Homo sapiens: one gene and its partner. The protein of the gene in region 1 purifies or fractionates together with the protein of each later gene. This does not show direct contact. Each region holds a gene or a part of one and is shown in the gene's direction. Other genes may lie near its edges. The genes, in order: PURB and RFC3.

Region 1 (4,296 bases):
TGGATTCACTATCTATGAATAACTACATTTAGGCTGGGTGTGGTGGCTCACATCTGTAATCCCAGCACTTTGGGAGGCTGAGGCGGGCAGATCACCTGAGGTCAGGAGTTCAAGACCAGCCTGGCCAACATTGTGGAACCCCATCTCTACTAAAAATACAAAAATTAGCCGGGTGTGGTGGCGGTTGCCTGTAATCCCAGCTACTCAGGAGGCTGAGGTAGGAGAATTGCTTGAACCCGGGAGGTGGAGGGTGTAATGAGCTAAAATCACGCCACTGCACTCCAGCCTGGGTGACAGAGCAAGACTCAAAAAAAAAAAAAAAAAAATTTAAGGATGAGGACATTTTGGCTTTGGAAAATCAAGTAACTGGTCAAGGTCACAGATTCAAACCCAGTGCAGTTGCAGAGCCTACACTTTTTAACACTATTCCAATTCTGCCTCTTGTTACACCTCAATGCTTACAACAAAAAGACCTCATAGGAATTATTCATTTTATTGATAAAGAAACTAAAGATTGGCAGTCAATTTCCTTAACCACTTTAATATGGCTAACTGTGGGGACAGTTAACTGATCTCTGGATCCCAAATCTAACCTCATCCTAAATCATCTTCTTTCTATATTGTTCCCACAGTGATCTTTCCAAAATGTGAACCTGATCACATACGGTGGCTCCAGACTCTGGGGTAGGCACTAACTCTCCCGCACTGCAAATGGCTTTCCTTGATCTAATCCACCCTCCAGTGTCATCTACGACCATTCTTCAGGCATACACACCCCCAGCTGCTCTGAGCTCCCAGCATCAGGCCCTGGGTGCCTCTGCACTGCCGTCTCCTATGCTGGGTGGCTCTTCTCCAGAGTTGCCAGGCCAACTGCAGTTTGCCCTTCAGAGTCAGCTCATGCCTCCTCTAGGGAACCCCACAGGCTGGTCAGAACCCGCTTCCGAGTGCTCCAAAGGATCTCCCTCCCCCCGGTCGCCAGTGTATAGACTGGAACTCTGTTCCCAGCACACAACCAGCGCGAGCAGGCTGGGGCCTGAGTATGCTCAGCTAACGCCCCGGAAGCGAGAAGGAGGGAAGTGGACGACACCGGAGTCTAAAGTAAAAGTGTCACGGGAAGAGGCGCGTAGACAGACGCAGCGGGCGGCTGAGTCACGCTAAGGCTGGCAAGTCCCCAGGGCTAGAAACCGAGCAGTAACACTAGCCTACTCTCAGCTTGCCGCCCGCCCGGCGCGGCCCCTGACGTCACCCCTCTGCGCCACGCCGCCGCGGCGCTTCCGGCCGCGAGGCCGCGGAGGGCGGGACGGAGTGACTTCACGGGAAATCGCGCGCCGGAAGTGGCTAGGGCTGCACGGAAGTCGCGGGGGCGGGGCGCGGAGGCGATGGGGGGGCGGCGGCGGCCGGCGATGAGCGGCGGGAGCGCGTGAGCGAGCCGGGCGGGCGAGGCTGGGGGGCCCCGGAGCGCGAGCCGGAGGGCGGGGGCGCGAGCGCGGCGGGCGGTGGCGGCGAGGCGGCGGCCTAGAAGATGGCGGACGGCGACAGCGGCAGCGAGCGCGGCGGCGGCGGTGGGCCGTGCGGGTTCCAGCCCGCGTCCCGCGGCGGCGGCGAGCAAGAGACGCAGGAGCTGGCCTCGAAGCGGCTGGACATCCAGAACAAGCGCTTCTACTTAGATGTGAAGCAGAACGCCAAGGGCCGCTTCCTCAAGATCGCCGAGGTGGGCGCGGGCGGTTCCAAGAGCCGCCTCACGCTGTCCATGGCGGTGGCCGCCGAGTTCCGCGACTCGCTGGGCGACTTCATAGAACACTACGCGCAGCTGGGCCCTAGCAGCCCCGAGCAGCTGGCGGCTGGCGCCGAGGAGGGCGGCGGGCCGCGGCGCGCGCTCAAGAGCGAATTCTTGGTGCGTGAGAACCGCAAGTACTACCTGGACCTCAAGGAGAACCAGCGCGGCCGCTTCCTGCGCATCCGCCAAACGGTCAACCGCGGCGGTGGCGGCTTCGGCGCGGGCCCCGGGCCGGGCGGCTTGCAGAGCGGCCAGACCATCGCGCTGCCTGCGCAGGGCCTCATCGAGTTCCGCGACGCGCTGGCGAAGCTCATAGACGACTACGGAGGCGAGGACGACGAGCTGGCAGGCGGCCCGGGAGGCGGCGCCGGGGGCCCAGGGGGCGGCCTGTATGGAGAGCTCCCGGAGGGCACCTCCATCACCGTGGACTCCAAGCGCTTCTTCTTCGATGTGGGCTGCAACAAATACGGGGTGTTTCTGCGAGTGAGCGAGGTGAAGCCGTCCTACCGCAATGCCATCACCGTACCCTTCAAAGCCTGGGGCAAGTTCGGAGGCGCCTTTTGCCGGTATGCGGATGAGATGAAAGAAATCCAGGAACGACAGAGGGATAAGCTTTATGAGCGACGTGGTGGGGGCAGCGGCGGCGGCGAAGAGTCAGAGGGTGAGGAGGTGGATGAGGATTGAAACGGGCAGCTTCCCCTACAGGCCTCCACCCAACCACCATCCCCTTGGCTAGAGAATTCCCTTTCCTGCTCATCCCCAGTGAGCTAGTGGAGAGGGAGCAAGGGAGGCCGCAGAGGGAAAAAACAAAACGTAACACAGTTAAGAGAAATAATCGTAAGAGAACAGTGACGGACAACTTGAGAAAAGCAGTCAAGTTCCAAGGAACTGACAGCAACCTGCAAAGAGGAAAACAGCATCTCCTCACCTGCGTAAAATTGTCTCAGCTTCTGTTGTTTCTCAACTGAGGTTCGTAAACCCATCAGGATAATCCCTGGAGGGAATAGATCCTTGCACATCCAGGGCAAGAAACATGTCCAAGTTACCCAGACCATTGATAACAGTTGCATTTAGGTTGCACCTGGGTAATCTGGCATAAAAGATCTCTCTAGGCCTCACTGTTGCGGTGTCTATCCCTTCACCTCCATTGAAATCAGCATTTTGGATCTAGGTCTTCATGGAATCCTTGAGAAGAGAGGCCTTTACAATTACCCAGTTCTGAGGGTTCAGGTTCACGAAAAGAAATGCAACTTGGGATAATCATGAACAGGTTAAAGATAAGATTTCAAGAAGCCATCTAAGAATACAGAACCAAATTGGATCCATTTTTTTAAAAAAATGGTTTTGCATGGAACCTGGACCAAGGCAAATGTCTTTTCTTCGCAGAATTGTTTTCCAGGATGCCAGTGGATTCAGATAGCAATGCTTGGAGTAGAATCCGTTACTAAAATAGTTTCAAAGTTGACAAAAAATTTTCAAAGATAAAAGCAGTTTTACATTGGGGGTTGCTGAGGTAGGCACAAGAAAAAGTCAGGCATAAAGCACAAGGCAGACTGTTTGAGTGGATTGGTTGCTGCTCACTAAAGTTGTTCCCCTGATCTCTAAATATGGAGGTCATTACCAAGAAATGCTTTGGTATGAATGAGAGCCAGATCTCCACTGTGTGAGCCAGTGAATTATGGCTAATTCGGCTGTTACAGCCACTGGTTGGCTGGATTTTAAACCATAAAACTTGAAGATTACCTACAAAAGTAACAGTGTGGCTATAAGCCTGAGCTTTAATGGATATACATCCTCACAGAAAAGTTGGAAATAACCAAAACTGAAGTCTTAATTTACCTTCAGTTTAATCTGTGGATTTGTTCAAATACTAAAGATCCTCAGGTCCAGAATTCCAGCATCATTTATTCTTTTAAAATTTTTAAGAACTTGATCCATTGTATCAGTACCTCACAATCAGAGTTGGCAAATGATGGATGAGTGATTCAAGCAGTGCACCCGGTGGAAGCTGAAATCCATCTGTGAATGGAACTGAAGTGAACGTGAATATGCTGACTATATCCTGGAAGCATTTTTATACCATCTTGAAATTTCAACAAACTGGCTTTTGCCAGTTAATCCAGCTGTCTTTCAAGAATAAAAGTTGGGGTTTTCAAGGATCGCCTCTTCTATATTTTAAATGGATTTTCAGTAGAAATGATTTTTACTAATCAAGTTAATCCCACCCCATCAAAAGGTATTCCTAGAAATGTCATAGACCTAGGTAACTTTGAATTGAATGGGAGCTAACGTTCTTTCCAAAGTTTTCAGGTATTCTTTGTGTGACACCTTCTCAACCAGGAGGCAAGTAACCCCGCCTCCACAATCTTAGTATTTTTTTTAAACTGCATGCCTGCCCCTTATTTGAGCTGCCTTTTTAATTTATTGCATATCCTTTTTATTATCTTATTTTGGTATTATTCAATCTATACAATCTTTTTGTATTTATTGGGAAATGAGTAATATACAAAAAGGTTTTC
Region 2 (3,815 bases), on another chromosome or scaffold:
TCTAAAAAAATAAAATAAAAAAATAAAGTAAATAAATGACCTTGTGTTCTGAGCTCTATTCCCTATCTTATTTTCTGTCACCTTTATTGGGATTCTTTCCTTTGTCTCTCTTTTACCTGTTCTCAATTTGGTCTGGGATTTCTTCTCATTGTGGAGCATTGTCTTAGTCTGGAACTCCTGTCCTCAAGCCATCTTCCTAGCTCGGCTACCCACAGTGCTGGGATTACAGGCACAAGCCACTGCACCAGCCACAGCCACCTGGAACACTGTCTTAGAAGGGAACTTCATTTTGGTATTCTCAGAGTCTGCTGTTCTGTCAAACCTTACTGCATCAGGGTTCCCTTGCTCTCACCCATAAATTGGGCTCTGTCGAATCTCCCCCCTCGGTAAGACTGCTGCTTTCTTTGAGACAGTGTCTCACTGTGTGGCAACAGGCTGGAGTGCAGCGGTGCCATCAGAGCTTACTGCAGCCTTGACCTCCTGGGCTCAAGTAATCCTCCCACTTCAGTCTCCTGGGACTACAGGCACACACCACCATGCCCGGCAATGTTTTGTATTTTTGTAGACATGGGGTTTTGCTATGTTGCCCAGGCTAGTGTTGAATTCTTGGGCTCAAGGGATCTGCCTTCCTCAGCCTCCCAAAATGTTGGGATTACAGGCAGATTACAGGCATGAGCCACTGTGCCTGGCCAACTGCTGCTTTCAAATTGGCCGCACCATGGTTTCTAGTATGTTCCCGTGGGTGATTTTGAGCTTTTCCTGTCATAAAGTCTGTCAAAATCTTCCTCCCACACCGTTGCTGATACTATGTGGGCCTTTCCAGTTTTAGTTGCTTATTCTCACTTGCTCATGTTTGGGGTTCTTGGGTAAAGCTTGTTGCCTGGTTTCTGTATAATGTTCATGGGTTCTTTGTTTTGGAATCTTTAGTTGTTCTGTTTATTTTTATGGGGCAGATCTAAATGCTACATGCTGCCAGTTCATCTTCTAGAAATAATTTGTTAATATAATGAAAAATACAATATTGGATTCAGTTTCTGTGTATACATTATTCCTGAACTATGTTAAGGCTGATCTGTGATTGTGGCCAGATGGAATCTTACTTTATGGTGGCCAGATATCCTCATGCCTTGTTGCCTACATCTCTTGCACCACTGTCTTCCAAAGTCTATTCCTTGGAATTTAATATTTTAGATTAAGGTGTACCACAGAAATGTGCTGCTGAGTAAAGTTATTTTGGGGAAATGCAGCACAGTACTTCCTTGTCTTGGTAAATTTTAGCGCATATAAATAATAAAGGTTGCAATGATTTCTACTACAAAGTGACCTTTTAACTTCATTTAGCCTAGTGTTTCTTGGTCTTGTTTGATTATAGATTCTTTTCTTTTTTTTACTAGCCCTGCCAACGCAAGGTCTCACAATATTAAAAACTCAGAGCTGTTCCTCTCTATAGAAGTCTTTAGTAAAAGGCAAAATATTTATATGATCTGAAGAGAAACTGGAGTATGATTGTAGCATTTTAAAATAATAAAGTAATTTTACCATACTTATAACTTTATCTTTGCCAATGGGAAGAGTAGTATATCAGGCTTATTATTTAGGATTTCATCCTGGATAATGAGAAGGAAGAAAGAGACAAGTTAAAGTTTGAGTGAACTCAAGTTAAAGTTTGTTTTGTTTCTCTTTGACTCAGTGGTATTATTGACAGAAGTTGACAAACTCACCAAAGATGCTCAGCATGCCTTGCGAAGAACCATGGAAAAATATATGTCTACCTGCAGATTGATCTTGTGCTGCAATTCTACATCTAAAGTGATCCCACCTATTCGTAGTAGGTGCTTGGCGGTTCGTGTGCCTGCTCCCAGCATTGAAGATGTAGGTCAAGTTACACTTTTCTGAAAAATAAATCAGTTCAGATTCTCTGAATATTGTATGCTTGTTGTAAAAGAAGGGAATCGTATCAGTAATTTAAGAACACCTACAGACCTGGATGCAAAGCATTAATATGTGAACAAACCAAAGCGTATAGTTGTAAATACCAGATGCCAATATATAGAAAGTGTTTTTCCCTTTAAACCATCTTTACTTTGAACAAGTAGGTATTACGAATTCTACTAAACTAGGTAAGGGCTAGTTATTTACTGTCTTCTTTCTCAAGCTGATTTAGTTGGCTATAAGAGGAGGCTGGAATATTGAGGAAACAGATTTTGCAAAGAGATGATGTGGGAATACCTAGTCCCTAGGAAGGGAATTAAAGTTAGTATGAAATAACATTAATATGAATATATATACATAGATATATTTTTTTCTCCATTCTTAACAGCCATCAGCAAAAATTATGATTCCTCACATTAAATATCTTTCCAGCTTTTAATAGATTTTGGGAGATTTCATGCAAAGTAGGGATAATATGCAACATTGTGTTAGATGCAGAGTGGTAAGTTACTTTTAGTGTAAGTTTCACTTATAAGAATTTTGAGAGTAATACAGTTATAAGGGTCTAGGAGGATATCAACAGAAATGAATCTTAATCTGCTTTTTAATGGATTGCCCATTTTTGTTAATTTTATTTGTAGATTTGCCACGTGTTATCTACTGTGTGTAAGAAGGAAGGTCTGAATCTTCCTTCACAACTGGCTCATAGACTTGCAGAGAAGTCTTGTAGAAATCTCAGAAAAGCCCTGCTTATGTGTGAAGCCTGCAGAGTGCAACAGTGAGTGGAAGGGGTAGTTACATTCTAGGACTTTGGCCCCCAAGCTTTTTGGCACCAGGGACCAGTTTTGTGGAAGACAATTTTTCCATGGACTGGGCAGGGGTGGGGGATGGTTTCAGGATGAAATTGTTCCACCTCAGATTATTAAGCATTAGATTTTCATTTGGAGCGTAGATCCCTTGCATAAGCAGTTCACAATACGGTTCACGCTCCTATCAGAAGCTAATAACATCACTGGTCCGACAGGAGGTGGAACTCAGGCCATAATGCTGGCCTATCCGCTGCTCACTCCTGCTGTGCAGCCCGGTTCCTAACCGCACGGACCAGTGGTTGGGGACTCCTGTTTTAGGACATAAGCACACTTCTGTTTAACTTCTTGTGTTCTCTTTTTGTCATGTAGATATCCTTTTACTGCAGATCAAGAAATCCCTGAGACAGATTGGGAGGTGTATCTGAGGGAGACTGCAAATGCTATTGTCAGTCAGCAAACTCCACAAAGGTACCAGTATAAAATGATGACAGTAAAGCTTTCATTATCAGGATATCATAGGACACATATTAACTATTTTATGCTAATGTCATTTTGAATTATAATTAAATCCTGAATCTATGTATTAACTTTTTAAGGAAAATGTAGCATTTAACTTCAGAAATTTAGTGGTTCAGAATAGTTGGTGTGTGATATTATGGCTTTTATTAAGCTGTAATATCATGGCTTACATGTGATCATGTAAAAGTGGAATTTATATTAATTTTAATTTTCCTTTTAGGATCTCAGATTACTTAACATTAACATACAACACAAAGCTAGAGATAATGTGCGTAGCTTTCTAGTAAAGGACAATGTAAAACTTTGTAATCAATGATGCATCATGTGCTAGAAAGACACCAGACTATAAGTCAGACTTCTAGTTCTTGTCCTGAACTCCTAGCTAAGTGTTCTTGATCAGGTAACTTCATTTTAGAGTTTTATCTTCATTTGTATATTGAAGATATTATTATTGCCTCACCAAGGGTACTTTTGCATTTGTTGTGAAGAGCAAAAGAGTTATTAATGGTTTGAAAACTAAAAAACCCTGTGCTTATAGATGACCATGCGTTCTAC

The links.
Region 2: the proteins of PURB (region 1) and RFC3 fractionate together in Homo sapiens (co-fractionation; one large-scale study listed by BioGRID). This does not show direct contact.

The regions. Positions count from the first base shown.
Region 1 is NC_000007.14:44,882,575-44,886,870, reverse strand, and holds the start of PURB (transcriptional regulator protein Pur-beta), read left to right. Parts: upstream 1-1,340; 5' UTR 1,341-1,522; coding exon 1,523-2,461; 3' UTR 2,462-4,296. UniProt on the Homo sapiens protein: Transcriptional regulator which can act as an activator or a repressor.
Region 2 is NC_000013.11:33,828,146-33,831,960, forward strand, and holds part of RFC3 (replication factor C subunit 3), read left to right. Parts: intron 1-1,690; coding exon 1,691-1,872; intron 1,873-2,573; coding exon 2,574-2,710; intron 2,711-3,110; coding exon 3,111-3,209; intron 3,210-3,815. UniProt on the Homo sapiens protein: Subunit of the replication factor C (RFC) complex which acts during elongation of primed DNA templates by DNA polymerases delta and epsilon, and is necessary for ATP-dependent loading of proliferating cell nuclear antigen (PCNA) onto primed DNA.